2 linked regions of the Homo sapiens genome follow. The protein of the gene in region 1 interacts with the protein of each later gene in a biochemical or structural test. Each region holds a gene or a part of one and is shown in the gene's direction. Other genes may lie near its edges.

Region 1 (3,645 bases):
AACTGTTGTTTTCTCTTGAGAGGGGCTTCCTGTGACCTTGGCTGTCTCTGGGAGCAGGGCTGGGGTACCTGAGTGGGGTGCATTTGGGGTGTGTGGGAAGGAGAGGGAAAGAAAGATGGACAGTGGGACTCTCCCCTAGCAGGGTCTGGTGTTCCGTAGGCTAGAGTGCCCCTCTGCTCTGCGAGTGCTGGGCGGGAGGGGAGTTGGTGAGAGCTGGAGACCCCCAGGAAGGGCTGGCAGAAGCCTTTCCTTTTGGGTGCTGTCAGGTCCGCATGTCTTGGCGTGTTGACCTTCACAGCTTCTGGCGAGGGGAGGAATGATCTGATGCGGGTGGGGAGGGTTAGAGGAGGCCTCAGGCCTAAGGTGGTGCAGGGGGCCCCCTAGGGGCTGGGCAGTGCCAAGGCATAAAAGCCTTCCCTGGTCCCTGGTGGCATTTGAAGGTGCCCAGGTGAGAGGGGCTTGGCACCTCCTCACCCTGGGAGGGAGAAGAAACCAGGGAACAGGTAGGAGTGGGAGACAGGTGAGGCTTTGGAAATCTATTGAGGCTCTGGAGAGATTTGTGTAGAGAGGAAAATGTGGTTCTCCCCCAGGGTCTCCTCCTGGGTTTTTACCCTCTAAGCAACCTGTGGGCATGCTGGGTTATTCCTAAGGACTAGAAGAGCTTGGATGGGGGAGGGTGGTTGGTGCCCTTCGGTCCTCGGCACCCCCCTCCGTCTCCAACACCAGCTCACCCTGGTATTTGTCATGTCAGCAGGAGAAGGTCACCATGTTGTTTTTCTCGCCCCTAGTCCTTCCTTCCTGCCCCAGTCCAAATTTGTCCTCCTATTTGACCTTAATACTTACCATGGCTTTGGACCAGGGAACTAGGGGGATAGTGAGAGCAGGGAGAGGGAAGTGTGGGGAAGGTACAGGGGACCTCGACAGTGAAGCATTCTGGGGTTTTCCTCCTGCATTTCGAGCTCCCCAGCCCCCAACATCTGGTTAGTCTTTAACTTCCTCGGGTTCATAACCATAGCAGTCCAGGAGTGGTGGGCATATTCTGTGCCCGTGGGGACCCCCGGTTGTGTCCTGTTCGACTCAGAAGACTTGGAGAAGCCAGAGGCTGTTGGTGGGAGGGAAGTGAGGAGGGAGGAGGGGCTGGGTGGCTGGGCCTGTGCACCCCAGCCCCTGCCCATGCCCATGCCTTGCTCTCTTTCTGTCCTCAGTGGTCCCAGGCTGCACCCATGGCAGAAGGAGGAGGGCAGAATCATCACGAAGGTGAGTCCCCCTGGCTGTTGGATGGGGTTCCCTGTCCTCTCAGGGGATGGGTGGATGGCCTAATTCCTTTTTCTTCAGAACTGTGGGGAGGAAGGGGAAGGGGCACAGGAATATAAGGATCAAGAAAGAAAGAGCTGGGCACCACGAGGTTCACCCTCAGTTTCGTGAGGACTCTCCGCTGTTCAGGTCTCTGCTAGAAGTAGGACTTGTTGCCTTTTTCTTCTGCTCTTTCCAGTAAAATTTTATTTGGAGAAGGAGTCGTGCGCACAGAGCAGGAAGACAGTGTTCAGGGATCCTAGGTGTTGGGGGAAGTGTCCCTTGTTTCCCCTAGCTCCCAGGGGAGAGTGGACATTTAGTGTCATTTCCTATATAGACATGTCCCATTTGTGGGAACTGTGACCCTTCCTGTGTGAGCTGGAGGCACAGAGGGCTCAGCCTAATGGGATCTCTCCTCCCTTCCCTGGTTTGCATTCCTTTGGGGGTGGAGAAAACCCCATTTGACTATGTTCGGGTGCTGTGAACTTCCCTCCCAGGCCAGCAGAGGGCTGGCTGTAGCTCCCAGGCGCCCCGCCCCCCTGCCCAACCCCGAGTCCGCCTGCCTTTTGTTCCGTTGTGGTTTGGATCCTCCCATTTCTCTGGGGACACCCTGGCTCTCCCCACCACTGACTGTGGCCTGTGCTCTCCACCTCTGGGGAGGGAAGGCCCTGGGGTCTTCCTTCCCGCGAGTTTCCCTGACCTAAATCTGGCGTGGCTGGGTAGTGGCCAGCAGTGGTGATGCCCAGCCTGTTCTGCCTCCTCCTTCCCCACCCCAGGAGCCCTTTCCTTGGCCTAGGACCTGGCTTCTCAGCCACTGACCGGCCCCCTGCTTCCAGTGCGCCACTTACCCCTTCCAGCTTCCCAGTGGTCTCTGGTCTGGGAGAGGCAGGACAAAGGTCTTTGTTTGCTGGAGAAAAGGTTGTCTGCGATAAATAAGGAAAACCACGAAAGCCTGGTTGTTGGAGTGTACGTGTGTGCTCCCCCAGGCAGTGGAGGCCAGCCCTCCTTGGAGGGGCGGCTGCCTGATGAAGGATGCGGGTGAGGTTCCCCGCCTCCACCTCCCATGGGACTTGGGGATTCATTCCAAGGGGAAGCTTTTTGGGGGAATTCCTACCCCAGGTCTTTTTACCCTCAGTTACCAACCCCTTGCCCAGGCCAGACCTTCCTGCTATCCCCTCCTGGGCCACAAGCCTGGCCCTCCTCTGTCCCAATTGTGATGAAGGGGCAGTTCAAAACTTCTTGATTAGTCATCTTCTCCCCTATCGACTTGGCTTTAAAAAATGACCTTTTCAGACTTCTAGTCTCGTTCACTCTTTTTGATGATGCTTTGCCGTAACCCTTCGTGGGTAGAGAAGGATTCTGTGCCCATTGGTGGTCTGGATAAAAGAAATAGAGACCTCACAGGAAGCAGTGGACTGGCCTGTTTCCCCACTGTTCTTTCTGTTTTCACACCTGTGGCCTTCTCCCCACCTTCTTCCCAATCAACCTATTGTGTACATAGCCCCCCTCATTGTCCTTTATTCTTCTGGAAAGCAGACCTTGGAGGGAGGAGTGAGGGGGAGGCTCAGCTGTGGTCTCTGGGGGGTGGGGGTTGGGAGCTGGGGTGGAAGTCCACGAAGCATACACTTAAGATGCTTTGGTGAAGTTCTAAACTTCATATTACCCAGGCTGAAAAAAGAGCACTTGTTCCTAGGGCTGGAAATGGAAGCCAAAACACCACCTTTTTCAGCCTGTTTCAGCATCTTTAGAGATCAGCCCAACCCACTTACACAGTTGAGCAGAGTTGGAGGCCTAGAGAGGGGAGGGACTGGCCCAAGGTCATACCAACTCATGGCCAGAGCCTGGGCCTCCTCACTGGCCAGGTGTTATTTCTTCCCTCTGGGTAGGGAACCTATTTCAGGGACAGGATTGCTATGTGGTAGTGGTGGTGGGGTGCGATAGGCGTGGCAGGCTGGGCCACAATTTGGAGTAGTCATGCCAGAGTCCTGCATTTATTTATTCTCAAGGGCCCCGCCTCTGTGGCCCAGAATTACCCCTTCATGCTCCAGTGCACCCCAGGCTTCGTGGCCAGCCTGGGAAACTGTCTCTACCCTGGTCTCCCTTCAGATCAGCTTCTAGAAATGTTTCGTGGCTACAGTGGCAGCACTGTTTTTTCCATGATGCAAGCAGTTTGCCCTCTTGGGCGGGGTTATCAGTGGCTGGCAGGGCTGGCACAGCGTGTCCGCCCACTGCCACCTGTGGGTTCCAGGAGGGCCCAGCCCCTGTGCTGATGCCCACCACCTTCTCAGCTCATGTCTGGGGAAGAGGACTGGCAGGGGGAAAGGTGCCTCCTCCTGAAAGGTGCCTCCTCTG
Region 2 (3,745 bases), on another chromosome or scaffold:
CTCGGGAGGCTGAGGCAGAAGGATTGTTTGAAGCTGGGAGGCAGAGGTTGCAGTGAGCCAAAATCTCACCACTGCACTCCAGACTAGGCGACACAGGGAGACTTCATCTCAAAAAAATAAAAAAAAGAAAAAGAAAGAAAAGAAAAGAAAGAAAGAAAGAAATTAAATACAATAGGAAATAGAGTGCACTCTGCATTTGTTTCCTTTTCAAGAAAACAAATGGGTCATGTAAACTGCATCTCTTAGGATGGAACAAAGACAAAAATATTTAGGGAAACTCTGCTGTAAAGATTTTTCATTGTTTTTTAAACAACTGTCAGGTCAACATATGACCTTTGAGGGGAAAAAAAATGCTCCACTTGTCTATAATACACTAAGGAGAGGCCAAAAAGCAGTGCTAGGTTTTTCTGGATTGGAGGATGTTTCCCCACTCTCCACCCCCCGATTTTGTGGTCATTTAATTTTCAAAAAATTTGCAATAATTATCCTTGTAAGAGTCTGTTGAGAATGAGTTCTTTACACTGCTAATGGGATTATGAACTGAACTGCTGGCTTTCAGTCAGCAACCCTGTAAATCCCTGGATTTATGCTAAGAAAAAAGAACACAAAAGAACCACAATGTGACATGCAGAATAATGCACGCTGCAATGTTACACATTCAGTTAAAAAGTGAAAGCAACTTCCATGTCTGCATTGGAGAGGCCAGTGTTCCTGGGAAGAGAGGCTTTCAAGTTGAGTTTGCAGAGCACTTCGCAGAAAGACTGAGGAAGAGTCCACCGTTTATATCAAAAACCTCCTGGAATGCTGGTGAAGACTGGGGGCGCTTTAGGTGCCTCCGTGGCAGCTCCAACGAGGAAGGAGCTGGGACCCCTGCTCCTCTCAGCTGCGCTCTGTTCTCCCGAGAGGCTTGCTGGAGGGCGAGCAGTTCAGCAAGAACTCAAAACAAGGGCACAGCTCTCACACGGATTCCAGTACTCACTGAAAACGGCTCAGCACAAAAAAAGCACAGAGTCTTGTTGAATGCCACTGGGAGACAAAGCGGGGAGGGAGGTGCAGGCAGTTAAGAGGTTCCAGAAAGGGAAGTGGTTGGCAACGGTTTGTCCTTTTAGTGCTTGACACCCAAGACCACAGCAGGCCTGTGGCCAGCGGGGACACAGTCCACAAGTGGGGGTTTTTAACAGCTTGTTCTTAAGAGAGCTTCCCAAACCACAGAGTAATGAGCACTCAGGTGTCTCAGGCCCACGGAGGATTTAATAGATGAAACCCTGGATCGTCTCGAAGCCGTGGTTGTTAAGAAGTTTAAATATATTGACCGGAAACGGGGAGAAACCAGAGGGTGGAAGAGCCGCTCGCACTGCGGTGCGATCCCTGAGGGCTCGGGGCAGGGGACTGGGGACCGAGCAGGAGCTGGCGGGGTGAGCTCTGCGAAGCGGGCGTGAGACCGAGCGCCCATGGGCCGGTCACGCCGGGTGCCCGCTCACCCCCCGACGCCAGCAGGAGCGCGCGCGCAGGCCCCGCGGGGCCGGGAGGGCGGCACGGGCGGGGCCCCCGTGCTCTCACCGCCCCGGGGTGTGGTTCCCGCGGACAGGCCGGGCGGGGCGGCGGGTTTAAGGCGCCGGCCGGCCCGACACGGCTCACTCGCGCCCTTGCCGCTGCCACCGCACCCCGCCATGGAGCGGCCGTCGCTGCGCGCCCTGCTCCTCGGCGCCGCTGGGCTGCTGCTCCTGCTCCTGCCCCTCTCCTCTTCCTCCTCTTCGGACACCTGCGGCCCCTGCGAGCCGGCCTCCTGCCCGCCCCTGCCCCCGCTGGGCTGCCTGCTGGGCGAGACCCGCGACGCGTGCGGCTGCTGCCCTATGTGCGCCCGCGGCGAGGGCGAGCCGTGCGGGGGTGGCGGCGCCGGCAGGGGGTACTGCGCGCCGGGCATGGAGTGCGTGAAGAGCCGCAAGAGGCGGAAGGGTAAAGCCGGGGCAGCAGCCGGCGGTCCGGGTGTAAGCGGCGTGTGCGTGTGCAAGAGCCGCTACCCGGTGTGCGGCAGCGACGGCACCACCTACCCGAGCGGCTGCCAGCTGCGCGCCGCCAGCCAGAGGGCCGAGAGCCGCGGGGAGAAGGCCATCACCCAGGTCAGCAAGGGCACCTGCGAGCAAGGTGGGCACGAGCGCTTCCCTCTCCAACCCTGCGCCGCTCGGCCCAGCGAAGGGCACATCCGACGGGGCGTCCGCGGCGGCCTCGCCCCGCGCTGCTCACTGCGATTCCCCCGCGGGCATCCCAGGAGCCAGATGGGAGGGAAAGAGTTGGCAGCCGCGGAATGCCAGGAGCGGTGGGCGACGCCCCCCCTTCTCCTTTTTGGTGGTTTTATTTTGAGAGTTTGCTGCGTGCGTCCAGAAAGTGAGGGCCGGGTGTATATGTAGAAAAGATTTTCCGAGACCTCAGACTTCCCCATGCCCAAAGCGCACCCAACTCGTGCTAACATCTGTCCATTTCTCATCATTCTTGGCTTGGGGATGTAGAGAGAGGTGAAGTCAAGAGATGGGGGAAAGGAGTTTGACAATTAAATATAAAGTAAGGACTTCCAGACAGACTTTTTTTTTTAAAAGATAGGATCTTGCTCTGTCGCCCAGGGTGGAGGGCAGTGGCACGATCTTGGCCCACTGCAACCTCTGCCTCAAGCGATCCTCCTGCCTCAGCCTCCCAAGTAGCTGGGACTATAAGCCTGTGCCACCACGCCTGGCCAATTTTTGGTTTTTTGTTTTGTTTTGTTTTGTTTTATAGCGACGGAGTTTCACTATGTTGCCTAGGCTGGTCTCGAACTCCTGAGCTCAAGTAATCCCGGCCTGCTGGGATTACAGGCATAAACCACCGTGCACAGCCCTGATTTCTTAGTATTGAAGAAAATAGTCCACTTTCTAAAAATTATAGGTTCTCAAACAGTAATCTAACTAGCTAATTATTTGTGGGCAAAAATAAAATACAAACTCTTTGAAGACTGTTTTTGTGATGCACTTTGTTGTCAACCTTCTGACCATTTTGTTTTTCCTTCCTATTTCTTTGATTTGTATTGTTTTGCATAATTTGTCCCCAGGATACACTGTTCAGCAGAAATGTCTTTGAGATTATGTTTGATTGTTTATTTTATTCCAAACAAGTCCAAGCTTGCTGTAAATGAAATAAGGAAATAGGCCGGGTGGGTTGGCTCACGTCTGTAATCCCAGCACTTTGGGAGGCCAAGATGGGCAGATCACGAGGTCAGGAGTTCGAGATCAGCCTGACCAACACGGTGAAACCCCATCTCTAATAAAAAATATATATATATACATTAGCTGGGCATGGTGGTGCATGCCTGTAATCACAGCTACTCAGGAGGCTGAGGCAGGAGAATCGCTTGAATCTGGGAGGCGGAGGTTGCAGTGAGCCGAGATCACATGACAGCACTCCAGCCTGGGTGACAGACAGAGACCCCATCTCAAAAAAAAAAGAAAGAAAGAAGAAAATAAAGTCTGGACTTGCAAATACACGCACATACACACACACATAGAAATTTTAACTCTAATGCCTGAAATAACATTTTCCATTGGCAGTATTTTCAAGGGAAAGTCAGACATTCAATGTTGGCAGCTCCTGATCTTAGCCAAGGTAGAAAAGGGAGAGGAGGCAGTTCTGAGGTTACAGAAGCTGTTGCTTCTTTAACACAGTTCAGACTTTCTCCAGAATTTCCAAATTCTTTCTTTAGAGCTTTTCCCAGAAGTCC

What was found.
Region 2: the proteins of VEGFA (region 1) and IGFBP7 form a complex in vitro, tested with the Homo sapiens proteins (one study listed by BioGRID).

What each region holds. Positions count from the first base shown.
Region 1 is NC_000006.12:43,773,136-43,776,780, forward strand, and holds part of VEGFA (vascular endothelial growth factor A, long form), read left to right. Parts: intron 1-1,205; coding exon 1,206-1,257; intron 1,258-3,645.
Region 2 is NC_000004.12:57,108,277-57,112,021, reverse strand, and holds the start of IGFBP7 (insulin-like growth factor-binding protein 7 isoform 1 precursor), read left to right. Parts: upstream 1-1,636; 5' UTR 1,637-1,670; coding exon 1,671-2,145; exon of another isoform or gene 2,146-2,260; intron 2,261-3,745. UniProt on the Homo sapiens protein: Binds IGF1 and IGF2 with a relatively low affinity. Stimulates prostacyclin (PGI2) production. Stimulates cell adhesion. Acts as a ligand for CD93 to play a role in angiogenesis.